Homo sapiens: one gene and its partners. The protein of the gene in region 1 purifies or fractionates together with the protein of each later gene. This does not show direct contact. Each region holds a gene or a part of one and is shown on either strand. Other genes may lie near its edges. The genes, in order: CREB3L2, FNIP1, BRAF, WWC2, TBC1D1, SPIRE1 and RAB11FIP2.

Region 1 (4,432 bases):
GAAATTTTTTTTTTTTCTTTGAGACGGAATCTCGCACTGTTGCCTGGGCTGGAGTGCAATGGTGCAATCCCAGCTTACTACAACCTCTGCCTCCTGGGTTCAAGCGATTCTCCTGCCTCAGCCTCCCGAGTAACTGGGATTACAGACGCCCGCCACCGTGCCCAGCTAATTTTTTGTATTTTTAGTAGAGATGAGGGTTTTACTATGTTGGCCAGGCTGGTCTCGAACTCCTGACCTCGTGATCTGGCCACCTTGGCCTCCCAAAGTGTTGGGATTACAGGCGTGAGCCACCGCGCCTGGCCCAGAAAGGAGTTTTGAGTCCAGAAAGCATCTACTCTGTGTGCTGAGGGCTGCTCCAATTCACCCACCACTCCTATCCATTTAAACTGCTGAAAGCAAAATCATTCTTGTGGCCAACCTGTCCTTAATTTGCTCAAATTGGGAGAACTTGTTTCATTGGTACTAGCTGGGGGTGAAGATGTAAGCCCAGGAAAAATCTGCTTGTCCTTCTAGCACCTGAATGCTATTCGGGGGTAGACTGTGGTGAGAAGCAAGTTATCTGCGAAAGCCCACAGCATTCTGTGAACAAATGATTTGATGATGTTTTCCAGTGAACTTATGTGGCTGTCTAACATTGTTACATCACAGCACACATTTTCCGAGAATCCTTGAGACCCAAGAGAAAGCATCTGCTCATAAAATCTTTCCACTTTGCCATATGCACTGGGTTTGGGGGTGGGGGATGAGGATGAGGAGGAGCTTCAACTCTTTACACCACTCACAGGGAACTCTTCCCGGGTGCTCTAACTCAGGAGGGTGTGTTGTCAGATCCTTTTCTATGCCTTGCAGTGTTCAGAATTTGCAAAGAATTTTACCATCTGCTCTGTGTGCTGATGTCACACAGAGCAGAGTATATAAGACTGTTCTTATCCCTCAAACTTTGCCTTTTAAGGAGAGGCACAGTTGTCCAATTTTAGGGATAAAACGTCTCCTTTTTTTTTTTCTGCTCTTGCTCTCTTGTCTTTTTCCTGGAGAAAGGCTAGAATCTGTTTCAAAGGATGGTTTTAAAGACCCTTGACTCTGGGCTTGAGGGTCCAGTTGAGCAGGCATCTTTGTTCTTTCATATGTTGGCTTCGTTTCCTGACTCTGGAGGTGCTGTGAGCGTTTAAGAACCACAGGCTTGAGCTGCAGGTGGCTGTTTGCCTCTCTGCCTTAAACAGAGCCGTTCTTGTTTTTCCTCTCCTTTCTCTCTCTCTCTTCTAACCTGCCTGTGAATGCCTGTTACTCTGTGTTGGCATTTCCAGTCACAGCCCCCACCTCTGGCCTTTCTCTCTCTCTTCTAACCTGCCTGTGAATGCCTGTTACTCTCTGTTGGCATTTCCAGTCACAGCCCCCACCTCTGGCCACTCCTTCTGTTGTTCTCTGCTGGTCATTTTTTATTTTTCCTTCTCTTTGCCTTTGTCCCTTTTTTATGTTTTTGTCAATGTTTCTCATCTCTTGCTTAAATGAGTTCTTCTTTTAATCGACATTTTCTTAGTCTGTTCAGGTTGCTATAACAAAATGTAATAAACGAGGTCACTTACAAACAACAGAAATTGATCTCTTACAGTTCTGGAGGCTGGGAAGTCCAAGATAAAAGTGTTGGGAGATTCCGTGTTGGGCGAGGGCCTGCTTTCTGGTTCACAAAAAGCAGCTTCTTGCTGTGTCCTCTCATAGTGGAAGGGAAGCACTCTAGTCTTTTCAGCTCCTTATAAGGGCACGAATCCCATCAATGAGGGCTCCATTTATGACTTAATCATCTCCCAAAGGTGCTGCATCCTAATACCGTCACATAGAGGACTGGGTTTTAGCATAGGAATTTAGGAGAGACACAACCATTCTGACTTTAGCCACCATCCAATCAGAGTGTTCCTTTTCCTTTGTTCTCAATCGCTGAGAAACAAGCCACAGCCTGTCAGGGGTAATGTGGAGGCAGTTACCTCTAACTCAGGGCAGTGCAAGAACAGGACTTTCAAGTGTGAAGGCTGATTCTGAGCCCCAGTGAGCTCTGTGACAATGGTGCTAGAAGGTACTGGTGTTCGTATCTTCTTCCAGAGGAAACTGTCCCTTGGGGCTCTGTTGAAATGCAGGCACAAAGGCACGGCGGCCTTCTTGGGTCACATGGAGAGATCAAAAAGCATCTCTTCTCTGTCAGACTCCCCTCACGGCTGTTGTTATCATTGGCAGGACTCTCCTTCAGCAACTCCAGAAGCTTCAGACTTTGGTGATGGGCAAGGTTTCTCGAACCTGCAAGTTAGCTGGCACGCAGACTGGCACCTGCCTCATGGTGAGCTTCCCAGCAGGGTAGCACAGTGACCGCCCCTGGCCTGGCCCCTGTCTCCCCTCTCCCTCCACTTGCCAAGGCCAAGTGCTGTGCTGTAGGAGAAACCACATGGAGGAACTCCACTCTGAGGCTGTTCCTCGGTGAGGCACTCTGGTGATGTGACTGGTGGGTGCAGTCCACTGGCCTGAAGAGGAGAGTCTGTGTCCCTGGGTATAAAGCTGTGCTGTCCAGAGGCTGAAGTCCACAGCCCCTCGTGTTCTCTCTCCCCTCTTTCTCTCCCACAGGTTGTGGTGCTGTGCTTTGCCGTTGCATTCGGCAGCTTCTTTCAAGGCTACGGGCCCTATCCTTCTGCCACCAAGATGGCTCTGCCCAGCCAGCATTCCCTGCAGGAGCCCTACACAGCCTCCGTGGGTAAGACAGCATGTGGCAAGTTGGGCAGGGTCTTGTTTTATTTCCCTAGAGCTGGGTTTCTCAGTCTTCCAAAAGGAATCTTCTGTGAAAGTCCAATGTTTAAAAAGTGGTAAAAGTGGAGCTTCTCCCTTTGAAGAGGCAAGTGGGGGTTCCCCTGGGGCCCCTCATCCACTGGACTGCGGCATCACTGGGAATTCTCCAGAGCTTGACAGAGCACAGTTTGCAAACTGCTGTTCTAGACTGTGTTCCCTGATCCATTCTGACATCTAATTTTTGAGTTCTGATAAGGGAGAGGGAAGCAGATGAGGGAAAGAGTCTGTCGCTTTCTGTGACGTTTTAAGAGAACTGCTGTGTTTCTGCCTCCACTGAGTGGAATTGTATGAGTAATGTAATGCAATGTATATAGTAAGGGCTTGTAAAGTGAAATTAAATAAACAGCAAGGTCAGGGCCGGGCGTGGTGGCTCACGCCTGTAACCCCAGCACTTTGGGAGGCCGAGGCGGGCAGATCACGAGGTCAGGAGATTGAGACTATCCTGGCTAACACTGTGAAACCCCATCGCCACTAAAAAATACAAAAAAATTAGCCGGGCGTGGTGGCAGGTACCTGTAGTCCCAGCTACTGGGGAGGCTGAGGCAGGAGAATATTGTGAACCTGGGAGGCGGAGTTTGCAGTGAGCCGAGATCGCACCACTGCACTCCAGCCTAGACGACAGAGCGAGACTCCATCAAAAAAAAAAAAAAAAAGAATCAGCAAGGTGAGGAGTTCAAGACCAGCCTGGCCAATATGCTGAAACCCCGTCTCTACTAAAAATACAAAAATTAGCTGGGCATGGTGGTGCATGCACCTATAGTCCCAGCTACTTGGGAGGCTGAGGCAGGAGAGTGGCGTGAACCTGGGAGGCGGAGGTTGCAGTGAGCCGAGATCGTGCCACTGCACCCCAGCCTGGGCGGCAGAGCAAGACTCCATCTCAAACAAACAAACAAAAAGAATCAGCCTGCCTTCCAAAACCTTATGCCCAAGATCTAGAGAATATGGGGACTCCGGTGTCAGATAAGAAGCGTATGGTGTTCTCACCTAGAAATAAAGGGATGGTGAGTAAGGAATACACACACAAATTCACACCTACACCTATAGGAATGAGCATGGGGTTAGGCAGTACAGTAGTCCCCCCTTATCTGAGGTTTTGTATTCTAAGCTTTCAGTTACCTGTAGCCAATGAACATACCTGCAGTTACCTTAAAATAGCTGAATACACTATAGTAAGAAACACTACCTGCAGCCAATAAAAATACCTGCAGTTATCTGAAAATAGCTGAGTACACCACCATAAGAAATTTTGAGAGAGAGAGGCCACATTCATGTAACTTTTATTAGAAGATATGGTTAGAATTGTTCTATTTTATTATTATTGTTAATTTCTTACTGGGCCTAATTTCTAAATCAAACTTTATCATAAGTACATATGTATAGGAAAAGGCATATGAACCCTACATGCTATATGCCCATATATAAACCCTGTATGGTTTTTCCCATACATATATACCTTATACCATATATATAGGGTTCAGTTCTATCTTCGGTTTCAGCCGTCCACTGGGGGTCTTGAAATGTATTCCCCATGGATAAGGGAGGACTACTGTACTGGATTTGGGATAGGGAAAATTTTGCCATCTTGAAACGTCTGTGGTCTTCACCA
Region 2 (4,432 bases), on another chromosome or scaffold:
CTTGGAATTTTTAATGTGACACTGTCTTGTTTCCATGGCTGAGTAGCTTTTGTACCATAGTTCACCAATTGCAGAAAATTATCCTATCTTGTTATTATTGTAAAATTTCTGATCTACACTATTCCATAAGAGCAGTTTTTCTTGGAGCTAAGATTTAGATGAACAAGCACTACTATAATGCTCTGTAAAAGGCATATATGACTATATTTGCTTACATAATCAAGTTGATGATTGTAGAGTATGTTCATGTGTATATATCCAGGATTCTAATCATATTCCTTGTTTTCACACATTTTAGCGGATTACCTAACATTGTAACCTTTTAGTGGAAATTACTGGAATGTGAACACATTTACTCTTCATTGTTCTCAGATTGGTATCAATTTAGCCCTTCTTGTTTTGATTAATATTTTCTTTCCCTGTAAATATTAGATATAAAAAATATATATTTGTAGAAAACTTGGAAAACACTTTTAAAAGGCAAAAATATATATTAGCCATTTTATCAGCCAGAAATACCTGCTTTTTTGTTTTTTAAAGAAAATGGGGATCATACTATTCAAATAAATATCTCAATTTATTATAGAGAATTTTGAAACATACATTGTTATAGGCAGAAACAGTACAGTGAACTATGATATACCCACCACTTGGTCCCAGCAAGCACTCATACTGTTCAGTAGCTTGCTTTTTTTCATTTAATAGTATATTATAAATATGTCACTGAATATGCTTCCAAAATATGACTTTTAGTCACTCCTTGCTTCTTTAGATATTATGTTTTAGATTCTTATACTGTGTATCAAATCTTCACAGAGCTCTCAAAGCTTGTTCAACTGAGTAATAGCTCTTGGTGTTGGGTTGGTGCCATGCTATTGAAAAAAATAAGGGAATGCAATGAGATGAGCATGATTTCGTTTGCTATTTAAAAGGAGCTGTTCATCCACCTGAATAGCAATATATTTTATAACTGACAGTTTCATCTTTATTTATAGTTCACAGCAACCCAATGGACATGCCTGGAAGAGAGCTCAATGAGGACAGAGACAGTGGCATAGCACGGTCTGGTAATGTCACGTTCTTGTATTCAGTTTTTTATGAGATTACTGTTGGCATTGATTTTCTTTTTTATCCCTCCCTTTATTATCAAATTTGTTCATATTGATATTAGCCTTACAAGAGAACTGTGAAAAGACCAGAGCAAAGTCTTATAAATTTAATATTTTTCATGTTTACTTTTAAGTGTGCTAAGTAGGATAAAGCCAGGATGAAGTAAAGCCAGAGTAAAGTACACTGGTTGAAGCTTAGTGAATATAAGAAGAAAAGCATTGGTCAGAAAAACTGCTTAGAAACTGTAGTAAAAAAAAAACACGTTTGCTTATATTTGCTTGCTGCTAACTAAAGTTTAAATTGTCATATTGTCTCTTGCCCAGAAAAGCATAGGCATTTTGAATCAATGTTATACTTTTTTTTTTTTTCCAAATATGGACCTGTCCAAAATTTGTAGGTCTAGCAAACATTTATTGAAACATGGTGGACATTAAAAAAATTAAAGCCCAGAGTCTGCCCTTACGGAACACAGATGTATGGAGTCTACTGGGAGAAAAATTAGGAAAATCATCTGTCATAGGTCATTGTGTGATGCATTTAGTGATAGGCCTGCGCAAAAAGCTTCAGCGAAAGAGCACCACACTTAGCCTGGGCAAGGGGCAGGGATGCCAACAATGCTTTACAGAAGGATGATGATTGAGTTGTATTTTGAGAAATAAATAGCAGTTATCCAGGCAAAAGCTCAGAAAAGCATTTTAGCTAAAAGGAAAAGTGTTTGTTGGGGCCCAGAGAGCAGCATAAGTAAAAGGAGGAGTAATTTTAGGCTTGAATTACTGTTAGATATGAGAAACTTAATTCAGTGTGATAGCATGTGTTGTTACATTATATGGCTCTGCTATCGAAATTGTTTTGTAATTCAGTTTTGAGTATAAATGAAAAATCTAAACTTGCTGTATATTGCAATCCCTAGGTATGTATTAGAATAACAAAGAGAAGTTTTATAAAAAATTCAAGTGCCTGAACTCTACTTTCAAAGACTCTCGTGTAACCTAGAGAAGGTATCTCTAGGCATCTGTATTTGTGAAACAAAACAAAATGCAAAACCTAACACTTGATTCTAATGGATAGCTAGGGTTGCCGACCACTACTCTAATAAGAGTAGCTTGTGTTTTTCAAGTAATCTCATCTTTCTTTTCTAATTGAGTTTCTTATTTTTGTTTTAAAGAATCTAGAGTTTATTTCTTTTAATAAACTTTGCTTCGATGTAATCTAGATATTTAGTCTTCCCTGGCAGGAATTTAATTCTCATTATTTTATTTAAGATTTAAGTATAATTTATTTATACTTACATTCTTTGTAAGTTGAAGCATCTGGCTAGACTGATCTGTTAGGCTGCTTCAAGTTATTGGATTCATATATGCCATTTAAGTTAATGTGTGTTTTCTTTTTTTTCTAATAGGGTTATTTTTAATATTAGAATGCAGTGAAATGTATTTTTTCCAAACTTAGGACAGCATTTTATTTTTCACTGAAGTCATACCCAGATTTAGTTGTACATACCCAATCTTGGACTACAAGAGTTTATAATACTAATTGATAAAATGTGGTCTGCATTTAGAATCTGCATTCTAAAGTAATTTAGAATGAGTTCATTGATGGTCTACATGTTTGCATGGCACATACAGCTTTATCCTCTATCATTGAATTTGTCAGAATTCAAATGAATAGATCTTCATAATGAAAGTGTCTCAGTTTTTAGTGCTGGTGTCCAAAATAATTTATCATCTGGCCTGTACCTTTTTAATAGTGATGATAATGGTTCCCTGTTTTGAATATACATTTTCAGTATGTGCTTATGATCATGAAAGATAGAAGTCTGGAATATTGCCAAACAAAAGCAAGCCCTTAATGGCAAGTGTTATCCTCTCTAAATCCAGTGGGGAAAAGCCTGATGAAAATCTCCTAGCCTAATGAAAAATCAGCAGTTGTAGCTCTTAACACCTCAAGCAATAAACATATCTTACAGATTTCACAGAAGTGTTTCGGGAAGGGAATAATCCATCCCCAAGATCAGGGGATTGCAGCCGTGAAAGAGTGGAGTCTGCTGGAATGTGTTTGTCACCTTAGATGCTCCAGGGAGCATTCTTTTTTTGGAGCTTAGTAGGTATAGTCATGATTCTTAATTAAAAGTGGTAGGTTTGACTACATGTGCACATGTGATCCATGAATACTTGTAAATGACCTCTTTAAATGCCATTCAGACACTTATTTTCAATAGCTTGTTCTTAAAATCCAGCTGCTGCATTAAGTTTGAATAGCATCAGATTTCCTTTAATTTAAGAACTAAAAGGATTCAACTGAGTTAGGGGACAGTCAATCCAGTGGCCAAAGGGATAATGCCTTGTTGCAAAGTATAATTTTCTTCTGGAGTCCCTAGAGGGGAATGCCAAAAGGGGATTGTCTCAGAGTTTTTTGCTGATACATTGTTAATATATGATTTTTCTCCTCTGAGACCTTGCTACAAGAAGGATGTGTTCTTTTAATGAACATTTTTGAGGCTCATGAAGCAAAATAAAGTTTAACTTAACCTATTTGTAATTTTGTTAAAAAGAAATTTGTCATTATGCTTAGTCATTATTGACTTATACTTGTTGTTCTTCTGACTTAACAGCATCTCTCAGCAGCTTGCTGATCACTCCATTTCCTTCCCCAAACTCCTCACTTACCCGAAGTTGTGCCAGCAGCTACCAGCGACGTTGGCGACGCAGCCAAACAACAAGTTTGGAAAATGGGGTATTTCCTAGATGGTAAGTTGGAACTTTAAACACAGAACAAGATTGAGTAGTTCCTTAAACACAATTTTATATGGGTTTTTTAGAACCTGGACTTGTATTCTGTGTATTTTAAGTTTGAAACTGAAAACTTTTAAAATTTACTACATTTTTAAAATTGTGGTAAGTTATACATAACAAGTTACAATTTTAACCATTTTTAGGTGTACAGTTCAGTGACATTTGTTTAAATACCTTCATATTGTTGTGCAACCATCATCACCATCCAACTCCAGAACTTTTTCCTCTTCCCAGCTGAAACTCTGTATCCATTCAACGTAATTCCTCATTTCTCCCTTTTCTTCCTCTTGTAACCACCATTCTATTTTCTGTCTTTATGAATTTTCATTCATACCTTGTATGAATGAAATCATACACTGCTTGTCCTTTTGTGTCTGCCTTATTTCATTTAGCATAATGTTTTCAAGGTTTATCGATGTTGTAGCATGTGTCAGAAATTCATTCCTTTTTATGACTGAATAACATTCCGTTGTATATACATACCACATTTTGTTTATCCATTTGTCTATTGATGGACACTTGGGTTGCTT
Region 3 (4,432 bases), 3.0 Mb from region 1:
CACAAAATCACCTTATGAAATTGACAGCCAAATTGGCTGCAACAGGCAGTTTGAAAAACACTGTTTTGGGGTTTCAAGGACCTTCTTCAGAGGTTACCCCAGGGCTCTGTTTAGTGCCTCTATACCAGGGGCCCCCAACCCCTGGGCCACAGCCTCGTATCTACCAGTCCGTGACCTGTTAGGAACCTGACTACACCGCAGGAGGTGAGTGGCAGGCAAGTGAGCATTACCGCCAAAGCTCCACCTCCTGTCAGATCAGCGGCAGGAGCGTGAACCCTATCAGAAACTGTGCATGTGAGGGATCTAGATTGTGTGCTTCTTGTGAGAATCTAATGCCTGATGATCTGAGGTGGAACAATTTCATCCTGAAACCCCCTCTACCCCTGTCCATGGAAAAATTGTCTTCCATGAAATTGGTCACTGGTCCCAAAAAGGTTGGGGAGTGCTGCCCTATACCATAACTATTGAAGTTCTTCATTTATCTGCTTTACATGTTAGTTTCCTTGAAAAAAGGGTTTTATGGCTGTAAAAATTTTAGAGCTACTATGTATGGAAGAGAGGTTTGTGCTGGCATAAATCTTCTCAGGTATCATCTGTGTAGAAAATTTCAACAACTTGTGTCTTAAGGCAGAGGTCAGCAATCTTAAGGGTCAGATGGCAAATATTTTAGGCATTGTGGGACATACAGTTCCTCTCACAATTCCTCAACAATACTGTAGTAGCTCAGAAGTAGCTAATAGACAATATTTAAACAAATGAGTTTGACTCTGTTCCAGTAGTCATTTTCAGGACACTGAAATTTGAATTTCATATCATTTTCATGTGTCATGAAAATCTTCTTTTGATTTTTTTTCTACCACTTAAACATGTAAAAAGTATTCTTAGCTTGTGAGCTATACAAAAGCAGATAGTGGGCCAGTTCATGGGCTGAACTGTTCTGACTCCTGGTCTAAGGGAGACTATATATGTTATATTTGAGGTTCTCAAAGTAAGATGTAGGTTAGAGGTCTATAGAAAGTTCATAATTGCTTTTGTAAAAACTAGATTGATTTATTTGAGAGGGAGAGAGAGGTGGAGTTTCACTGTATTGCCCAGGCTGGACTTGAACTCTGGGCTCAAGCAATCTTCCAGCCTCAGCCTCCCAAGTAGCTAGGACTACAGGCATGCACCAAGCCCAGCTCCTAGTTCCTCTTTGCACTCAGTTTCATCTTCTACCCTCAGCCCCTGGCAAACACTGGTCTGATCTCTGTGCCCTTTCCAGAAAGTCATATAAATGGAGTCATATAAAAGTCATATCAGTGGGGCCGGGCATGGTGGCTCACACCTGTAATTTCAGCACTTTGGGAGGCTGAGGAGGGCAGATCACCTGAGGTCAGGAGTTTGAGACTGGCCTGGCCAACATGGTGAAACCCCCTCTCTACTAAAAATACAAAAATTAGCCGAGCATGGTGGTGGGCACCTGCAATCCCAGCTACCTGGGAGGCTGAGGCAGGAGAAACACTTGAACCCGGGAGAGGGAGGTTGTAGTGAGCCGAGATCGCGTCATTGCACTCCAGCAATTGTGAAGCAGTGGTTAAGGTTCATTCATTATTTTACATATGGATGTCCAGTTGTTTCACATTTATCAAATTTCTTTTGAATCACCTTGGCACTTTTATTGAAATCAATTGCTTATGTTTGTGAGTTTTGGATTCTACTGTTTTATTGATCTGTGTGTGTTTTCTTAGGCTAATACCCCACTACCTTAGTTATGATAGCTTTATAGTTAAATTTAAAATCAGGTAGGTCCAGTTGAGAAGATTTTTAGAACTTTGACTTTTTAATTTCTTGTTACCATACTTTTGGAAGGAGAAGACTCATAATTTTATTCAGGTTTTCAAAGGTGTCTTCTACCCCCAAATACTTAAGACTTCAGTATATAGTTAATATATCTCTGTCTTGAATTATGTGGTGGTGAGGTTCATGAAAAGTGACAGGTAAAAGTTGCAACCAAAATTAATTTCCTTATAAGAAAGGACATATTTTAGTAGGTTGCACAGAAAAGTCAATCACGTCCTTTTTACCGTGTTGCATTATGAGGTGTAATCAAAATGTGTATAGGGGAAAATGAATATGTTAAGATGTTTATTCACCAAAAAAAGTCACCGAAAGTGTCAATTAGGTTGTGAAAGATACTAGTTTACAATGTGTTATTCTCCATCTTCATTAGAAGAGTTCTTCCATTTGAAACCTATGTCATGTTCTGTGATATTTCAGAGTTAGTATCTTTATGAATCTTAGGGGCATCATTAAATCATTATGTTTCTTCTAAGGAAAGGCATATGGTAGTAGTTGGTCATATTTCTACCTTTTTCAGTGGGGCCTATAGGGCCCCTTTACTTTGTTTTAAACTGCACTGATAGCTTTTTACTGGTTAGCCCAGGGAATTATCCCTACAGTGTAAAATGATGTTTCTCATCATGATTTTCATTTAATAATTTAAAAACAAAATAACAGGAAACACATGTTTCTAGAGAGGAAGTGTGGAATACCTGACTAGTAGAGGGTCAGGTGACAATTGCGAAGGTAGAAACTGACTAAGTTTTGACCATGTTGCAAGGAGTATCGTTCCAGTTTTGTTGGGTCACCTTGCAGAGTTTTTAAAAAAAATCCTTGGGTTTTTTTTGTTTGTTTGTTTGTTTGTTTTGGTAGAGATGCTGTGTTGCTCAGGCTAGTCTCGAAATCCTGGGCTCAAGCAGTCCTTCCCAGAGTGCTGGGATTACAGGCATGAGCCACCGCACCCAGCATCACCTTGCCGATTTTGAAACTACACTTCCAGGGAGAGAGTAATACAATATCTTGGCAGACTATTTTTAACTATTGTTCCAAAATTAATCTGTTTTTAAAAAGTAAAGAAGTGTGGATATCTTTAAAAGATACTTTAATTAGGCTGGTCACGGTGGCTCATGCCTGTAATCCCAGCACTTTGGGAGGCCAGGATGGGTGGATCACCTGAGGTCAGGAGTTCGAGACCAACCTGACCAACATGGAGACACTCCGTCTCTACTAAAAATGCAAAAAATTAGCCGGGCATGGTGGCGCATGTCTGTAATCCCAGCTACTTGGGAGGCTGAGGCAGGAGAATTGCTTGAACCTGGGAGGCGGAGGTTGCAGTGAGCCGATATTGCGCCATTGCACTCCAGCCTGGGCAACAAGAGTGAGGGAAACTCCGTGTCAAAAAAAAAAAAAAAGATACTTTAATTATATTTAAGTTGGGGAATACTTTTGTTTTATATTTTTTCTTGCACTAAATATGTAACCTTTAAGTTAATAACACCAGAAAATTTTTACTTTATAGTTTTAGAACTGCTTAATTGAAATAAAATGTTAGGATACTTTGAATTAGTCACTTATTTTGGCATATTTTAAACAGTTTAATGTACTGCTTGGGGTTGTTTCTCAATTGACTTGATATTTTTAAACTGTATTTTTTACCTTGTACCATTTATTTTGCAAAATAAATTTCTATTTTGGCTTATAGATGTATTTTTAATATTAAAGGGGATTATTGGTGTCAGCCATAAAATTGTAATTAAGTCTTAAGTAGGTATGGTTTTTTTTTTTTTTTTTTTTTGGAGACGGAGTCTCGCTCTATCATCCATGCTGGAGTGCAGTGGTGTGATCTCGGCTCATTGCAACCTCCGCCCCCCCCCCCCCCCGGGTTCAAGTGATTCTCCTGCCTCAGCCTCCAGAGTAGCTGGCACTACAGGCGCATGCCACCATGCCCGGCTAATTTTTTTGTATTTTTGGTAGAGATGGGATTTCACCATGTTAGCTAGGATGGTCTCGATCTCCTGACCTCATGATCCGTCCGCCTCAGCCTCCCAAAGTGCTGGGATTACAGGCATGAGCCACCGTGCCTGGCTGATTATTTTTATAGAGCTCTTGTTAGCGTAATTTCTGGTAATGTTTTATGGAGGTGACTTAATTCCCATCATAAAAATATCCCATCTTTTCTGTGACTAGCAAGCAGTTATTGCCTTTATAACTTTTTTTTACCATAAAAAGATAAAGTACTATTGATAATTACTCCTAATTAACTCAGAACTTTTTTGTTTTACACACATTAATATATACTTCCATGGGAATAGTGTCAGAGAACATCAAATAGGGAAGAGATTATGATTCAGAGTGGTCTTTATATTCCTATTCTAGAGCCACAGAAAATGTTCATCTCCCTTTAGTTTTTGCAGGATTGCCTCTAACACTGATGATATTCCACTCATATTCTTCCTGCACATGCCTTCTCATACTAACAGTAAGTCACACAATCTCAAATAAGTTTCATTATACATGAGAACTCAGTTGAATGCTTGCCTTTCACTGGCATCTCTTGATCCTCCTCCCCCTCCTTATGGTATGCACTGAACTTCTAGTAGGCCATATGTGTTAA
Region 4 (4,432 bases), on another chromosome or scaffold:
GAGATACCATTTTGCGAAGACCTAATGACTAAGCATGCCTTTTATGTAAATGTGAAATTATTGTTATTATTTTTGAGATGGAGTCTTGCTCTGACTCCCAGGCTGAAGTGCAGTGGTGTGATCTCAGCTCACTGCAACCTCCACCTCCTGGGTTCAAGCGATTCTCCTACCTCAGCCTCCTGAATAGCTGGGATTACAGGTGCGCACCACAACACCCAGCTAATTTTTGTATTTTTAGTAGAGACAGGGTTTCACCATGTTGGCCAGGCTGGTCTCGAACTCCTGACCTCAGGTGATCTGCCTGCCTCGGCCTCCCAAAGTGCTAGGATTACAGGCATGACCCACCACACCCGGCCTCATAGTACTTCTTATAATATGCTGTAAAGGTGACTTACTCACAAACAACCCATTATCCACTGAAAAAAAAATAAAAACTCCACTTTGGTTCTTGAATAAGACATCAAAAAGCAACAGTTTTCTTTAGATACATAAGTTAGTAGAATGGCAAAAAAAGTAAAGGATAAAGGCTTTCCATATTCCACCAAATCACACATAGACAAAATCTAAATTCAATTACACTCTTCTTTAAGGCTATCAATATAATATTTATGAACTTTGTGGGAGCCTCTGACATCTATTATACTAAATATGACATCTATGATACTAAAGCCTTTCTGATAGCCTAACGAGTCTGTTAGCTCTGCTTCTTTCTAACTTTATTGTCAGACAATATCATCAGATATTTTTTTCAAGTAAAGAAAACAAGAAGAAAAATTAAGAAGAAACCTACCCCTCTTAAACTTTGTTCATCATGAAACATGTGTTTCTGTGCTTCCCACTGGACTGCAGAGAAAAGCTCAATTGGAGACTCACATTGTTTTCTGAACACATGGCACATCTCTAGATGCCTGCATTTGAATACTTATGTAACTTTACTGGGACATAATGGTTTTCTGGTTATTACGCACAACAGTGTATTAAACTCACAATTAGTTAACTGTGAAGTCTTCTGCTGTAGCATTTAAATGTCATATTGCTTTAAACAGTAACATCACATCTTCCCGAAAGCTCCAATACTGTGGTGGAGGAGAATGAGGTGAATAAGGGTACTATATAGTACTCAGTGGTCTTGCTTAATTTTAATTTGTAACAGTGAATTATGTAATTATGTGGGGATATCTTTTTGATATCTGGCTTCATCGCTTACTAGTTGTATGACCGTTGAATATATTACCTCTCTAAGCAGCTCCTTATCTGAAAATAGTGGATAATCATCCATTTCATAACCAATCTTTCATCAGGTTGTCATGAGGATTAAATGAGATAATATATACACAGCAGTCACGCAAAGCTTGGCATTGGTACTGGGAGTGGTAAGCACACTCCATGAGTGATAGCTGTCACAAAGGTAAAGTTCTTCTGTGGTGAAAAGGTAGAAATAGAAAGCAACTTTTACAGAAAATCACAATTTATAAGCAGATTTTAAAGGTCTGGAATAAGAGAATAAACAGAAACCACTACTTCAGAAAAAAATGAACAAACACTAGATGTATCCCAAGATGTTGGGCAGGTCTGTAGTGATTTCTAGGGCTGGCAAAATAGCAACTACAAAGTATATCCTCAGACCACCCAATCTAAGTGCTATTTGGTAATGGGAATTATGAAGAATCCTACCAGGCATTCTTCCCTTCGGTGTTTACTGACAGAGCAAAGGTCTACCCTCAGTGTCTTCTGTTGTAAGGCTGTTTGGGAAATGGCGACTCTGAACACATCATTGAATAAAATGGATTCTGTGGGCGGATGAACTTTTGTGCGAAACAGACAGCTGACATCAGTTGAGGAAGGAAGAACGGCAACCCTAAAATATCTGCAAAGAACAAGAATAAAATGGATTTCATAGGTACTTTAATTATACCAGATTCACAGCTATCATTTGAAATTATCTGCAAAGAGAGAAAATGAGGGATCGTGGAGTTCAAGATCAATCTAAAGTGTTGCTGCCATCACGGGTCCGTGCTCAGCTGCATAGATGCTCTGTCCTTAACCCACCCGAGCTGACTACGCCCCTGAGCATGCAATGGCCCAGCCTCCACTCACCACGAGACTGCAGCAAAGGCACATGATAGGAAAGTGAAGAGGAAGAAAATCCGTAGGGCAGACGAATTTAACGTCCCACCTGCCCCATGGACAGCCAATTCCAAAATAAGTTATTTCTGAGCCTGGGAAGGTGGGAACACACTAAGTAGATACTGGTGACTTTATCTCACAGAATCCTCATCCTGAGTATTAAACAAGAGATGCTGATGATCACCTCCCAGGAATGGAATACATTATCCTACTAGAGAAAAAGAAAGGCTCAGTAGCATATTGTTAAGAAAATTTAAAACAGATGAAACAACGGTTCAAAAATATCACTGTCTAGCATCTCCAAATTCTGAGATACGACAAACTGTTTTAAGAGTCCCGTGCTTTGTAAAATTCAGAGGAAGAGTTATAGAAAAACAATAACTTCTAATACTACCTTAAAGTGACTCTTCTGAGCACACATTGTATGAGGACCCACAATTCTTAGAAAGAGCGTGAGGTAACTTCCTTTAAATCCCAGGAAGAGAATACCGCTAAGTCTATCCCCTCCACCCCCATTTCCAGGCTTGTCTAATCTAGATTCTAAAACATGCCTTTCTCCGTTAGAAAAACTGTAATTCAAATGCAGAACTGAGGAATGTCATATTATTTTGTATTTCATATCAATATTAATTATGGAGATTCAGCAATGAAAACCTAGTGGGCCTGAAGCCCACTGCTGTTGATTAAAGAGCCTTACTAAGACACAGCTCACTGTCCCTGGGAGGCCGAAGATTCAGCAGAAGAAAATCTTTTCTGCTTGTCACAATTAATAATCAAAAAATAACTTTTGAGGTTGGGAAAAAAAAGAACAATTTTAAGAATATTTCATACTAGCTGTCATGTTTAGCAGTGTCATTATTTAGGCCAAGGCTTTTACATGTGGGTTTAAGGAAAGATTGCTATATATGTCAGGAAGGTTCGCACCAACTCAACAAGTGCCTGCACATTAGCTGGGGAGCCGAAGAGCAAATGTCTGCTCATTGGTTGGGCTGAGTATTTCACTGGTCCTACACTACGCAGGTATCACCATGCCTCCAGAAGGGACTTGGTGACATCCTATGAGGTAAGTGAGAATGACTGTGATTGGTTTAGTTGAAGTAGAGCATATTGCAGGTGCACCCTTACAGTGAGTTTAAAGAAGGTGTGTGTTCTTGGGGTGTTCTGTAGTTTTCTCCTGAAGTTGTGCATTAGTTCTCACTGTTTATTGTTTCAGTCTCTGGTAGACTTGTCTTCTCCATGATTTGCTTTACTAAAAGGCCACCAATGGCATGCTCCAACATCACAGCTTATCTACTGGTAGGGAGAAGTCACAGTTTATATCAAGCCAGTCTTCCTGGACACCGCTGACTGGTGTTTTTCATCTCGCATTTGGGAAGCAGGCTCTCTGCGTTGATCTAGGCACTTCTATGTGATGCCTGCTCTCCTCACTGGTCTCACTAATGATGTGGACAGTCCACACTTTGATTCAGGAAGTTCTCTAAGCTCACCCTCCTCCTGGAATCCTATCCTACCTCCAGCTTTGATGCTTGTCAACACATTAAAATCTACTATCTTGGCTGGGCTCGGTGGCTCACGCCTGTAATCCCAGCACTTTGGGAGACCAAGGTGGGAGAGCCCAGGGAGTTCAAGACCAGCCTGGGCAACCCAGTGAGACCCCATCTCTTAAAAAAAAAAAAAGAAAGCCACTATCTCTATTCTTCTATTGTCAACTACATAATTTCTATCTAGTTCTTTTTCTCTTAGATCCAGTTTCTTCTTTCTGATGATTATTGGAATGTTAGGAGGTGAACTTACAAGCAACTCTGTAGGAAAAACATGCAGAACTCTTTAATTTATTCTATTAAAAGTCTTATCACTAAGGAATATACTCTATCATTAAGGAAAACATTCACCTGGCTGGGTATAGAGTCTTGGGGATCACCCCTCAACAGCTCTTTTTAAATTTCCAAAGCCTTGCACTGCATATTCAAAATATTATTAAGATCCACTTCTTACAGGAAGTTTCAATGCAGAGTGGACATGCATATTCCGGATTCTACGTCATAGTGCTAAGTCGAAGTCTGGATTCTTCCTGGTACTTTCCAGCCATGAGCCCTTCAGAGTCACTGAAACTCTGATGTCAGAAAATGTGAATGGTGGTGTCTAAGACTTCCAGACTTATTTGTCATGAGATCTTTAGGCTTATCTGTCAGGAAGCAAAAAGTCTCTAAGCAATGGACTGTGTAGCATTATGTCATCACTTTGTTGGGATTCTTGGTTTGATGAAGTGAAATAACTTTAAGAACTCACTGGTCACAGGGAAGTA
Region 5 (4,432 bases), on another chromosome or scaffold:
CTCTCAAAGAGTTGGATCTAGGATTGTATTGTATCGATTTGTGGTGTTTGGATATAGTTTTTCCATGATCCCCTACGAAAATATGCCTCTCATATGTAAGAATCATGCCTCCTCCGTGTACACTTTTCAGACACTGACAAGGAAGGGTGTTCAATACAGTACTGAATTTTCATATAGCTTTTCTGGGGGGGCCAAAATACCAAAATCAACCCATTTCCTACCTTTATTCTGTCCATAAAATTGTTAGAAATATCAAAATCCCATTTCATTCCCTGTTAAATACATGTGAACGTTGTCTAGACGCTGGAGAGCAAATTCTACCACCTCTTTTGTTCAGCAGTACATCAGACGATTGCATAGACGTGCCAGATGGAACCAAATAATAATGCACATGGATTTGTCATAATCCGTACAAGTCATTGACGCCCACACTGAGCCAGGTGCTGTGGGAGACAGGACCATGTGTGAAAGAGAAGACATGCTTGCTTCTATAAAAGCATCGGTGTTATTGAGGAGACCTGACATTAATGCAGAATAGCAAATGACCATGCAAATTAATTCACTACTAACTAAGCTGCAGGTTGCACCTCGGAATGCAGAGGGGCTTCAAAGTGATGAGGGTAGGCCCTGAGCCAGGCCCTGACGATGGGTGGATTTTGAGGATCAGAGAGTACAGCTTAGAGAGATACCCCAAGTGGGACCACCCCTTGCCCAGTAGGCTGACAAACTAAGGCTCTTGGTCCCTTTTTCATATTTTGGGTGTTCTAGTGGCCCAGCCAGAGCTAGACTTCGAGTCATGAATTTTCTGGCACAAGTGTTGTCACATTCAAAAAAGTATTTTCTTTGTTTGAAAAATGAAAAATATATATATATGTGTGTGTGTATATATATGTGTGTGTGTGTGTATATATGTGTGTGTGTATATATACGTGTGTGTGTATATGTGTGTGTGTGTGTGTGTGTGTGTGTGTATATATGTGTATATATATACCATTTTTCCCACCTAAAATGGAGCATGGCAAATCTGGACTGGATTAGTGAGATAGACCAAGTCACAGAGCACTCCAGGATGCAGCTGTGAGCTGGGGAACAGGTCAGAAAGGCCTCAGGGACATCAGCATACATGTTGGAGTTTCTGCAGTTTTCTTAGGGAACCCTTTAATGTCACTAGAGCTAACACACTTGTCACCTGGGAAGCAAGCCTGCCAGAGCAAATTAGAGAGACGAGGGACAGTTGCTAGAAAGATACACCTGGAAGTTCTATTTAACTAGCATTAATTATGTGCTAGGTGCTGAGGATGTAGACTGAGTGAGATCCTCATTCCTCCTCTGTAGGGTGGAAGAGAGGATATTGCTTGTCTCCATGGCTCGTAGTGAACAGTCAGTGAGACCAGGCACATAAACCTCTTAGCAGAACACTTGGCCTTTCTAAGGACTCCATATGTGTTCCGGGGTAAATGCCTGTGTTTCTTGACGTAGTGATGTCTTGTTCCTCTAGACATCACTAACTTTACACAGTAGCTTTAGATGGCGTGGACGTGAATAAATGCAACTTAGGTTTTCTTGTTGGTTTCTTTTTGAGTATCATTGTGTTTGTAAAGAATTTCAGATTAGAGGATTGTTACCACGTGGGCCTTCAGGAGGAAACTGTTTTGAGTTTTTGTCAGCCCGAAATCGATTTGTGCGTTTAAGTATATGTGCTCATCAAAACAGGCCAGGCTCTGCTGCAGTAACAAACTTACAAGTCTCCGAGGCTTGGCACAACGGAAGTCTTTGTGTCACTGACGCCCACTTCAGCTTTGTGTTGCTGAAGCATTCTTTGGCCCTATCCAAGCTGTCCCTCTGGTGGTGGTGCCTGGGGGTTTGGGTTCCCTCTGTGTTGTGATCCACCATCTCAGCATCGGCTTCCACAGCAGCCATAGCAGGAGAAGAAAATGCTGGGGGCTCTCAGGGTGCTTTTAAGGGCCTGGCCACCGACCTGCAAGGGGTGCGAGTTGCCTTCCTGTGTGGCCAGAACTGATGATAAACTGTAGACTCATCCCTGCTGAAACTCGGCTCCAGAGTGCTCCCAAGGCTGGACAGCGTGTGGGCACTGGATCCCACCTGTGTTAGCACTGGCAATTGTATTCTCATTTCTTCTTTTATTCTCCAGGTGGCAAATGGTAGGATCCAAAGCCTTGAGGCCACCATTGAGAAGCTCCTGAGCAGTGAGAGCAAGCTGAAGCAGGCCATGCTTACCTTAGAACTGGAGCGGTCGGCCCTGCTGCAGACGGTGGAGGAGCTGCGGCGGCGGAGCGCAGAGCCCAGCGACCGGGAGCCTGAGTGCACGCAGCCCGAGCCCACGGGCGACTGACAGCTCTGCAGGAGAGATTGCAACACCATCCCACACTGTCCAGGCCTTAACTGAGAGGGACAGAAGACGCTGGAAGGAGAGAAGGAAGCGGGAAGTGTGCTTCTCAGGGAGGAAACCGGCTTGCCAGCAAGTAGATTCTTACGAACTCCAACTTGCAATTCAGGGGGCATGTCCCAGTGTTTTTTTTGTTGTTTTTAGATACTAAATCGTCCCTTCTCCAGTCCTGATTACTGTACACAGTAGCTTTAGATGGCGTGGACGTGAATAAATGCAACTTATGTTTTCTTGTTGGTTCCTTTTTGAGTGTCACTGTGTTTGTAAAGAGCATTCACAATACGGTGGAATTTCAAAAGCTGGAAGAGCTCGAGATCATGCCTCAGGCAAAGGCGTGGGTCCATCGTTCTTCCGAGAGGGTTTGTGTGGCGACTACACCCTCAGCGTCCCTGGCAAGGTGCAGTTGGCTCTCGCCCATTCTTGTTATGGAAACCTAAGATGATCATTGGGAAGATCAGTGATCTTGGGTCATTGATCCCTGGCTCAGAGGATAGCGGTTTCCATCATAAACCAAGATGATGAGTTCAGCCTTTATCCCTCGTGGTTCCACTAGATGTAACTTAAAGGAGTTAACATTTGAGGACTTTGTTCTACATCAGATTTTACTATTTGAATGTTTAAGATCACTTTATTGAATTTGAAGATCATCAAATTAAATAAAATGATTTATTTAATTTGGATATCCTGATCACTGTCAAGTGAAATGGATCTCTCTCTTTGGTATTTAAGGAAGTTTGTCTTTAAAAAAAAAATAGAGTGTTTTCATACATTTTTGCTTATCCCATAAGTACAGTTGATCAAAGTCATAGTAGGTAAATGCTTTATGGGACAGCTGACACCTTTTAGACCCTACCAGGTATTGCTAGCATGTGAGCTGCAGTTGTGGGGTCTGAGATATTTCTTTGTGGTAGTTTCATACCCATACTATAGAGTCATGTATTTATTTTTGCCTGTTGTGTGATGTAATGCAATCATGTTCCTTTGAGTCTCCATCCCTTGGAAATCTGACTTCTTGCAGAAGGAGTAGGCACATCAAGATATTCAGGGGTGCCCCAAGAGTCTGGGACTTTCAAAAAAAAAAGATCAGGCTGAAACTGCAGTCAGATTTATGACAGCTGACAGTTTTTCAGAGGTCGCACACAGTGACTCTCCTCTCTCAGGATGACGAGGACCTGTGCCTTCAACAAGCAAAATGCTGCTCACGGTTGTCCTGCTTGCAGCCAGTCACTGTGTAAAGCCTCTCTGATGTGCACTTAAGAGTGGGTTGCTTTCTCACAAAGATGGGGTTCTGTGCAGTCACAGGTCACTTCCTTGACAACACAATCATTTCTGATCTTTATCACTGTAACCACGTCTTCTATTCCATAGGAGTTTCTTTTGATTCTCTCAGTTGCGGGGGGCATCTCTTAATCCTGGGGTAAAAGGAGAGATTGCCATACTTAGACTCACTGTGAGTCTCCCCGGCCATTTCACGAGGAGACCACAGTGCTGCCACCAGTGCCTAAACAGGTGGCTGGCATTCGAGACTTCCTCCTGTTCCCTGGGTCAGAGGATAGCGGTTTCCATCATAAACCAAGATGATGAGTTCAGCCTTTATCCCTCGTGGTTCCGCTAGATGTAACTTATAGGAGTTAACATTTGAGGACTTTGTTCTGCATCAGATCTTACTATTTGAATGTTTACTGTTGGATTTTGGGCATCTTATTACTGTTACTCAAAAACATTGACTCTGCATCAAGAAAGAAACAAGAAAGCAATAAAACAAGAAATAATTCATGCTCACATTTTTATGGTGGTTTTTTTTTTTTTTTTAACTTTGGATTTTTGCTTTTCAGCCCAGGAGTAAAGGAATGCCTTATGAACACCTGTGGCCTACGTGTGGTCATGACCCAACCATCAGTGAGATTATTTGAGATATTGGTGTCTGCATCCAGTGTTGTTATCTGAGTGTTTATTACGTAAGTTGTAACACCTCTACACAGGGTGTGAGTTTAGCACTGATGAGACCAGCTCCATCATTGTATG
Region 6 (4,432 bases), on another chromosome or scaffold:
TAAGAGGATGAGGTGTGAGAGGATCATTTGTGCCCAGGAGGTTAAGGCTGCAGTGAGCTATGACTACACCATTGCACTCTAGCCTGGGCAGCAGAGTGACACCTTCTCCAAACTCTATCCATAACCTAAACGAAACTTGACCAGTGTTTGTTCATTTTGAGCTCTTTTTTTTTTTCAAGAAAATTTATCAGTGGTTGAAAGTATGGATTATTATTAAAGAAATGCTTTCTTTCTTTCAAAGGCTATTAATCCATTTAAAAATTGTTAAAAATTGACCAAAAAAACTCTTAGCAAAATGACTACAGTAGGTGATCTTATTGAGGCAGAAGTACAAGCGAGGGAGAATTTTGATCCATTAATAACTACTGTACATTGTTTTCTAGTATGTTTTGTGATATTTGGGGCCAGTGGTGTTATTTTGGTTGAACTGGTTTATAGTTTTTGCTGTTTTCCAGAGACTTGCAGGTTCTTATAGTGGGTGCTCATTTCTCAGGACAGTGGGCAGCACACAAGGGTTTGCCAGGAGGAATTAGTAGATCTCCCAGCCAACAGAGGTCTCCAAAGACTCTTTTGTAGCGCCACTTGGCTTCTGAAATATTTGTAGGCAAGATGCACAGCTGTAATTAATATTCTACCCACAGTCAAATATCTAATGTGTTTTCAAATATTCATGAATAAAAAATAATAGAATATATTGAATACTAAGTCCATTTTTTAAGGCTGTGATGAATTATTAGAGTTTCAATTAAAGTAATAACAGATGGGAGATAATGCGATTATTGTGAAGACAGGGATTTTGAACAGAGCTTAGAATGTTAATATTTGGTCATTCATCTCTATGCCAAAACAGTGCAATTAAAGAACTAATGATTTTATGGCGATTCCTGATAGGATTCTTCTAGCTCCAGAATAATCACCAAAACACAGCTATTCGATTAAATATAGCCTTGTCAGTGACTTACCAACAAGAAAACAGAACTCTGACCAGACAGATTCAAACGTAAAAATCTAAAAATTTGTTTTCATGTGAATAAGTTATTGCTTTTACCAAAATATACAGCTATTATCACAACTTTAAAATATGTAAGAGGGTCCAGGCACAGTGGCTCACACCTGTAATCCCAGCACTTTGGGAGGCCAAAGGAGGAGAATCGCCTGAGGCCAGAAGTTTGAGACCAGCCTGGGCAACTTAAGAAACCCCTGTCTGTACAAAATTTTTAATTAAAAACTTAGTTAGATGTGGTGGCGCATGCCCGTAATCCCAGCTACTCAGGATGCTGCAGAGGGAAGATCCCTTGAGCCTAGGAGTTTGATGCCACAGTGAACTAAGAATGTGCCACTCCACCCCAGCGTAGATGACACAGCAAGACCCTGTCTCTAAAAATATATATACACACATATGTGTATGTGTGTGTATATGTGTGTGTATGTATGTATATACATATGTATGTACATACATATACACGCATGTATGTATATACATATGTACGTACATACCACACATATGTATGTACGTACATATGTACGTGCATACACACATATGTATGTACGTACATATGTACATACATACACACATGTATGTATATACATACATACACACACACACACATACATGTGTATAGGTAAGAGGGAACTTGTGGTTTTTTTCATAAGTCTAATCATTAGGGTATTCTCTTCTTCACTCAGCTTTTCCTAGAAGCCAGTCTATCATTCAGCTTGTAACTGGCCTTTATGTGATCATACAATGTCATTATTGAGGTTAGACTTAAAGTTTAAAATTAGCAATGTAAAGGAACTATCAGCTTAGCTACAAGGTAGTTTCAGCTTATAATAGAAGTTATGCTGAGACCTTCAGCTGACCCCAAGGGCCCATGACTGTGTCTGTTTCCTGTTAAAGCAGAGCTCTTAGTGTTGCGAGGTCAGGCCGTGCACTGTTTTTTTGTGGAGCAGGAAGGAGAGCAAGATAAACTAACTTGCAATCACTGAGGAAGGTCTCAGTGAGCAGGCAGTGGGAGAGCCGCTCTGCTCAGCACTGAACAGTGGTCAGATTGAGGGCAGGGAGCAGAGTCCACGCAGGCCTCCAAGCACCAGCAGAGACGAAATGATCTTCCTTGCTAATAGCTTATCTTGGGAAATCCATAAAATCATACCTTGTAGTAATGCCCTATAGCTTGGTAAGTATTGTTTTTATAAGTGTAATTAATTTTTAAATGTAGCTGCATTTTAGAAAACAAAGAATCATTTTGTATTTGTAACTCCTCAACTGAAAATGGCAGGAATGTTTTTATTGTTGATAATTTTTTTTTTTTTTGAGATGGAGTTCCGCTCTTGTTGCGCAGGCTGGAGTGCAATGGCTCAATCTCGATTCACCACAACCTCCGCCTCCCGGATTGAAGCGATTCTCCTGCCTCAGCCTCCCAAGTAGTTGGGATTATAGGCATGTGCCACCACACCCGGCTAATTTTGTATACTTAGGAGAGACGGGGTTTCTCCATGTTGGTCAGGCTGGTCTCGAACTCCTGACCTCAGGTGATCTGCCCGCCTCGGCCTCCCAAAGTGCTGAGATTACAGGCGTGAGCCACTGTGCCCGGCTGATAATTTTTATTTTTGTTGTATCTCCCTCCCTTTTCTTGTGATGTTTAAAATGTCATTTTTTTTCATCATTTGGTCAAATAACCGAGGGCAAATGCCCATCCAGTCTAAAGGCACCTCGTGTTGGCAGTACCTTCCTGGGGCAGGTGCAAGTGGCTGCCTGGCACATGTCCCCATGCTTTCTCAGGCACAGTAACGAGTTGCCTCTATCCTTCATCACAACAAGCCCCACTGAGGAAACTCAGAGTGTTTGCAGGACCCTAAATTAGAAAAATCCTTGCTGTGTGAACGCTGAGATTCTCCAGGAAGGACTTCGTGGTTTCATCACTGATTTATACGTGTGGATGCAGATGTTCGCACGGACTGTACCAGCCTCATGGTGTTTTTTGTTTTGTTTTCCTTTTGTGATCTGTAATCACTATGTGTAGGTCACTTGTGTTCAGCATTATTTTCTCCTTTTCTTTTCCCCCTGCCATTTTCTTTTTCCCTTATCTGTTGTTCAGGTTCCTAGGATAACCAGTGTATGGCCAAGGACGCCTTTTCGACCACTTTTTTCTACCATACAAACAGCTTCTCTGCTCAGCTCTCATCCTTTTGAAGCAGCCATGTTTGGGGTAGCAGGGGCTATGTATTATCTGTGTGAGAGAGCTTTTACCAGCAGGTGGAAATCCTCAAAGGTTGGCCTCTTTCTGCTGGGTCTGGGATTATTTCATTCTCTGTATCTCTGACGGTGACACCTCAACTGTTGCGTTCTCTGAGAATTAACCGCTTAGATAGCACTTTGCTTCCAATCATTGATTCCACCCTTGTGCAGGATGCACCGATCATGCCGTGGTCTCAGTTGAGGGAAATAACTGGGAAAGGACAACAAACTCAAAATGCAGCATCTGATGAAGGGGACCTGTGGGTGTTTGTCTCCTCGGGTGACCTAATTGTATAGCAGAGTCAGTGCTGCCACCTTTCTCCATGTGCAGCAGGCACTCTGAGCCCGTGGGGTGCATTCCTCCTAGGGCCTCCCCCCACCATCAGAAGAGTATTTGCTCACTCATTCCGTGAGCAGAGCATCCTCCTGCCAGGCCAGGTAGCCATGGTGGACTCCGCCCACCCACAGACACCTGCACAACCAGGGCATGGGCTCAGGAAACCTGTGTGCTCCCATCACCTGTCATGAAGCTGTGTTATGACAACCAGGGTGTGTACGTCACTTCTCTGCAAAGAGAAATTTCAAGTTTCCTTTTTAATGATGTGGCTATTTTAAATAATTCTGCATTATATTACTGTTTTTTGAGGTTTTTTTACACAGAATAATATATCATTATTTGAACCTTCACAATTCTACGTGAAATAAAAAGCTCTACGACCATATTGAAGCCTCTTCTGCCACCACGTAGCAGGTGCTCAGAGCAGCCTTTGTGCTACAGTAGGCAGGGCCTGGCTCTCTAAAGCCTTGGATTTACTAACCTTGTCCTTGACAGATGACCCCGCAGCTGGTTTCTTTGTTACTCTTTCTTAGTCATCTTGATATGGAAAGGAGACTCAATGTAAATAAGACACAAAACATTCCTTTCTCTGATCTTTGTCATGAAATGCAGGAAAAACCTCTGTCCTTTTTCCCGTTTTAGATGTGCTCTTGGGCAGCACGTGGTCAGGTGCCACGGTGGCTTTTTAACTCCTGTCACTCCTGCCTCTACTGAAGACCTGCTGGCATTTGATTATCAATTCTCCCCAAACAGAGATATCTGAACACTAAGGCCATATACCACTTTAGGCAAAGAAAGGATTCACTTTGAGTTTTGTTTGTTTGTTTTTGTTTTTTTTGAGATGGAGTCTCTCTCTGTCA
Region 7 (4,432 bases), on another chromosome or scaffold:
AGATGTGTTTGACCTATGGTGCCAGCCTTCAGTTTCTCAGAAGACATATGGGACCCAGATAAATCAGACATTGAATGCGCTGACGAGAGTCGCTGAGGACCCAAGAGAAAAGGCTTTTTTGGTTTGGATTTCATCTGTATTTCACCACTTGAAAATTCACTATTGGCATCGGGCATGTGAGTACTTGGAATGATTGCAGAAGACGTATCAGAAAATGTTCCATCATTTTTTCTACCCTTCATCTTATCTTTTAACTTTGCAAAAGGAGATCTGGTTTTGTCCTTCATTGATAAGTCAAACATACTTGCGGTCATATTGTTCCTCATAAACTGAATATTGACCTTTATCTCACCCCTGTTTTTGATTCGTTTTCCTTGTTTGGATTCTAATCTAAACCACCTTAAAGAGAAGAAAAAAAAATTGGCTGTAACACATAATAGAGAGAGGATACTGAGTTCTGTTACATACAAATAGCCTTTTAGGTAAAGTAACTATACATCAAGGCAACCTAAGCTCTGAATAAGAATCTGTCAGCCACAGTATTTCGGGCTTTACTTATTATTTAGTTTAAAAAACTGATCATTGTCTCTGTGATGTAACATATACTGAAGGAATGAATAGGTCTTTGGCAAGTTTGAAAATGTTTTCAGATAATCTTTTCTTTTGTAATTTGAAAATCACTCATCATCAAAAATTCTTATCAATGCTAGAAGTTTTCCATATGGGATTAAGTGTTGCTCACGGCCTAAGGACATTTTTTTTTAACATTAAAAGACATTGAGGCAGAGATTTTGAAAGAATTCACCAATACAAATTATTTTTGAGCATTATAAAATGAATCTCATGACATTTTAATACAATAATAAATACCTGGCCCCATCCCAAAATATTACTTACGTAAAAGTAGCAAAAGAATTTTGTTAACATTGGAGATCATTGCATATAGCTTGCTAATCATTAAAACAGCATATGATGTCATTTAGATTGACATAAAATGAATCAAAGCCTACTCCTGAATAAAATATGCAAAAAATAAGTAAAATGCAAGAAGTGACAAAAAATAAATCTTGTGAAGTTTTCAAAAGGAAAAAAAAAAACCTAAAATGCTTCTTGTTTGAATCTATTTGCTTCATTTTACTATTGCTACTGTGACAATACCAAATAAAAATTATTTTGAAAATGAAGCCAAATCTTACGTTTTAGTCCCTTCAATGTATGGCACTATCTGTATTTAAATGATATACAAGAAGCAATATTTTGGTTTTATAGTATTTTTATCCATGAGAAATTCTCCAGTTGGCCATGTCACAAGTGGTCATTCTATGGGAAAACAGCCAAAAAAAACTACAAAATCAAGCCTGAAAGAGTTTCTACAATGTTTTCACATAACTTAGCAATGAGGCATAATATCCATTCCTGCACACAGGTTATTATTTAAATATAGCTCTAATCGAGTGTAACAAATTTTCTTAGCTACAAAGGAACTCTGATCTAATTTTACATTAGTTCTTTCTCTCATTGTTACCAACTGGATATGCCAAGAGAAGATTACATTTACTGTATATCAAGTTGAAATACTGGCACATGATATAAATACCAGCTACATCTTTGCACGTAACATGGAAGAAAAATATTTTCTTGATTAACTAAATTGGAGCTATTCAATCAATTCAGATATAGTTGCATCAAAACTAGCCATTTCTTAGAATATCAATATTTTAAAATACTATTAGCCTGAGACCTTAAACTGAGAAAATCCCTTATATAAGGCAAATGGTAAAATCTGAAGAAACAGGGGCTAGAAATAAGAAATGACAGCGATTTCTGTGAAATAGACAACCTTAAATAACATACAATTGAGCACTCAAAAAGCCTGGAAATGAAGCAGATTATATACCCAGTTAACTCAAAGTTTTGGAAAACAGAGCTATTTTCAATAGGGAGAGAAACACATCTGACGAACAGTAGCTCAGAAATACTCTGTAGTACCTCAGGCTTTATAGAATGTAGGTGAATATACTTTGCAAAAAATGTACCAAAAATTTGCAAACAAAAACGAGCACGTATGTAACAAATCAAAGCAAATATGAGTAAAAAAAAATTAATTACCCCCAAAATGGAAGGGGGTGGGGGTAGTGGAAATTCACAGACTTTTAGAGATAAGACCAATAAATCATCTACTTTAACATCTTTATTTCATAGATGAGGAAATTGAGGCACAAGGAATGATATGTAACTTCCCAATGTCAGATTAAAGTCAATAAAGAAAAAAATCTAAAGTTGATGAATAACATCTGCAGGAAAATAGAAGCTCTTTCTTATTTGATGAACCACATATGTTAATAAGGTTAACCACATGGCTGGCACATACTGCAGGACACTGTATTTAATAAGGAGACATGAGAGCTGAAGAGAAAGACAATGCAAATTTTCTACTGCTAGAGTATAAGCTCCTGGAAGGCAGTCTGCCTTGCATTAAATGTTTATTCAATTTTTATTTCTAGAACTATATTCTTACAAGTAAGCTACAACTGTGTGTGTGTGTGTATGTGTTTACATTGTCTTGTTTTTTTAGTAGGAAACTGTAAAGACCTATGTAAACCTGAATAAAGCAAATCAGTATTTGACTACAAACTGTAAATACACTATAATGTCCATTCCCCACCCCCCAAAAAAAACTGCAAAGAACTTTTACAAATATACTCATTGAAAATGTAGCAATGACAAATAACTTTAGTTGCTTTGTTTTGAAAATGACATAATAGGGAAGTCTTAATGAGATCTTCAAGAATCATTTCAGAGATAGCATTTGTTTTTCCAGTCTTCAGAAAGATAAAACGAAGACACAGCATTTGGAGCTTACTGGATTAGCTGACTTTTTTTCACCTCTGGAGTACTGGATTTAAACTGTACATGGCCTCTGTTCAATTTTTAGTGGGCACAGGTCCATGTTCAAAAACCAGCACACATATGGGAACTATTCCCAAGCAATTGGTGCTGTGTGGTCAGAAATGGGACAAAATTGGCAGTAAGGGTGCCAGAGGCCAGGACACAGGTGCACCGCTGAGACACACACACGTCCTAAAATCTGCATATGTCTGAGTCACATCTAACTCTACAGACTCTGGTTGTTATTACTTTTCATGAGCATTAAAAAAAAAAGTCAACATCACCTACTTCTATTGTAAAAAATCAATGGATATTACACAACAGCATCAATGATTTTAACATTCTATTACTAAACATTGTATTATTTCTTTAAATCTCATGCCAGAACCAACCCAGACATCCTCTAAAGGAGGAGATACAGAAGTTCTCTTCCCAGGCCCACTCAAAGGGTTCTGGCTCAGACCCTTTTTCCCCATTCCTTAAGAGAGAAAAAAGACATATATTTTCAAGGTAAGAAAATAAGTAAAGTAATAATTTTAGTTGTCATACTTCTTTATCTATCATGACACAACTGGAAGACAAGCTGTAAATATATGTCTTCAGTGTCAAAATGTAAAAAGTGTCACACCCAGCAGTTTCATAGGACATCTAAGTTAGCTGGTAGTCCTCATCACTCGAAACAGTTTTCTAAAAAGCACTTGGGAATATGCTGAAAAAGTTTAGCAATGTGCAGAATATTAAATATCTTCCTTGAAATATACCGGCGGCTCAAGTCTGTCTCTTACTGGGCCACAGGTACAGCTGTGCTAGAAAAGGAAGCTATTAAATATATTAAAAAACTAGAAATATTACCAATAAAGATATCTCATCAAATACATGGTCCCCATTTATCCACAAATAAAATGTTAAGGGTTTAGCAATATATGAAAATCACTTTGAATGCAATAACATCACAAACCCTGTTGATAACATTTAAAAGCATTTTACCCCTAAAGTTCTAATCAATTTTATATAATAGCCAGTAGAGAATTTCTATAAGGAGAGACCATAATATTAGAGTATTGCTCACACCAAATGTATTGTAACTGTGATGTTGCCCAGGACTAGGAGTAAAACAAGAAGAAATTGTAAAAGGTTATTTCATCCTCAGACTCCTTGGGTTCACATTTGGTCCTACTTTCACTAGGAAAATTTATGTTTCAGAGAAGGCCTGAAATACATGATCCATGAATATTAAAGTACTATAAATGAAGTGAGGAATTTGAAGGTGCAATATACTTAATAGTTTACATTCAAAACACGTTAAATATTTACTAAGTGTCACCCAAAATTGGCAATTTGAAACAGATTATTTGGTAATTATCCATTTTTCACTTTCAATTTGATAAAGAATCCCTCGGAGGAAACTGAATGCCACTCTTTAGGTATCAAATAATTTTATTATTCAAATCACTGATATATATTAAACTTTACATTTAACTTTTTCTCTCCTTCTAAAATATTTTCATCTCAATTAAATGGTACCATTTTTCCTCCTGCATTC

What was found.
Region 2: the proteins of CREB3L2 (region 1) and FNIP1 purify together in Homo sapiens (co-immunoprecipitation; one large-scale study listed by IntAct). This does not show direct contact.
Region 3: the proteins of CREB3L2 (region 1) and BRAF purify together in Homo sapiens (co-immunoprecipitation; one large-scale study listed by IntAct). This does not show direct contact.
Region 4: the proteins of CREB3L2 (region 1) and WWC2 purify together in Homo sapiens (co-immunoprecipitation; one large-scale study listed by IntAct). This does not show direct contact.
Region 5: the proteins of CREB3L2 (region 1) and TBC1D1 purify together in Homo sapiens (co-immunoprecipitation; one large-scale study listed by IntAct). This does not show direct contact.
Region 6: the proteins of CREB3L2 (region 1) and SPIRE1 purify together in Homo sapiens (co-immunoprecipitation; one large-scale study listed by IntAct). This does not show direct contact.
Region 7: the proteins of CREB3L2 (region 1) and RAB11FIP2 purify together in Homo sapiens (co-immunoprecipitation; one large-scale study listed by IntAct). This does not show direct contact.

What each region holds. Positions count from the first base shown.
Region 1 is NC_000007.14:137,883,297-137,887,728, reverse strand, and holds part of CREB3L2 (cyclic AMP-responsive element-binding protein 3-like protein 2), read left to right. Parts: intron 1-2,226; coding exon 2,227-2,326; intron 2,327-2,607; coding exon 2,608-2,734; intron 2,735-4,432. UniProt on the Homo sapiens protein: Transcription factor involved in unfolded protein response (UPR).
Region 2 is NC_000005.10:131,705,836-131,710,267, reverse strand, and holds part of FNIP1 (folliculin-interacting protein 1), read left to right. Parts: intron 1-995; coding exon 996-1,067; intron 1,068-3,721; coding exon 3,722-3,857; intron 3,858-4,432. UniProt on the Homo sapiens protein: Binding partner of the GTPase-activating protein FLCN: involved in the cellular response to amino acid availability by regulating the non-canonical mTORC1 signaling cascade controlling the MiT/TFE factors TFEB and TFE3.
Region 3 is NC_000007.14:140,914,231-140,918,662, reverse strand, and holds part of BRAF (serine/threonine-protein kinase B-raf), read left to right. Parts: intron 1-4,432. UniProt on the Homo sapiens protein: Protein kinase involved in the transduction of mitogenic signals from the cell membrane to the nucleus. Phosphorylates MAP2K1, and thereby activates the MAP kinase signal transduction pathway. Phosphorylates PFKFB2.
Region 4 is NC_000004.12:183,266,406-183,270,837, reverse strand, and holds part of WWC2 (protein WWC2), read right to left. Parts: intron 1,868-4,432; coding exon 1,675-1,867; intron 844-1,674; coding exon of another isoform or gene 796-843; exon of another isoform or gene 791-795; intron 1-790. UniProt on the Homo sapiens protein: Regulator of the Hippo signaling pathway, also known as the Salvador-Warts-Hippo (SWH) pathway.
Region 5 is NC_000004.12:38,134,983-38,139,414, forward strand, and holds the end of TBC1D1 (TBC1 domain family member 1), read left to right. Parts: intron 1-2,152; coding exon 2,153-2,353; 3' UTR 2,354-4,191; downstream 4,192-4,432. UniProt on the Homo sapiens protein: May act as a GTPase-activating protein for Rab family protein(s). May play a role in the cell cycle and differentiation of various tissues.
Region 6 is NC_000018.10:12,458,592-12,463,023, reverse strand, and holds part of SPIRE1 (protein spire homolog 1), read left to right. Parts: intron 1-3,095; coding exon of another isoform or gene 3,096-3,269; intron 3,270-4,432.
Region 7 is NC_000010.11:118,040,167-118,044,598, forward strand, and holds part of RAB11FIP2 (rab11 family-interacting protein 2), read right to left. Parts: intron 400-4,432; coding exon 1-399. UniProt on the Homo sapiens protein: A Rab11 effector binding preferentially phosphatidylinositol 3,4,5-trisphosphate (PtdInsP3) and phosphatidic acid (PA) and acting in the regulation of the transport of vesicles from the endosomal recycling compartment (ERC) to the plasma membrane.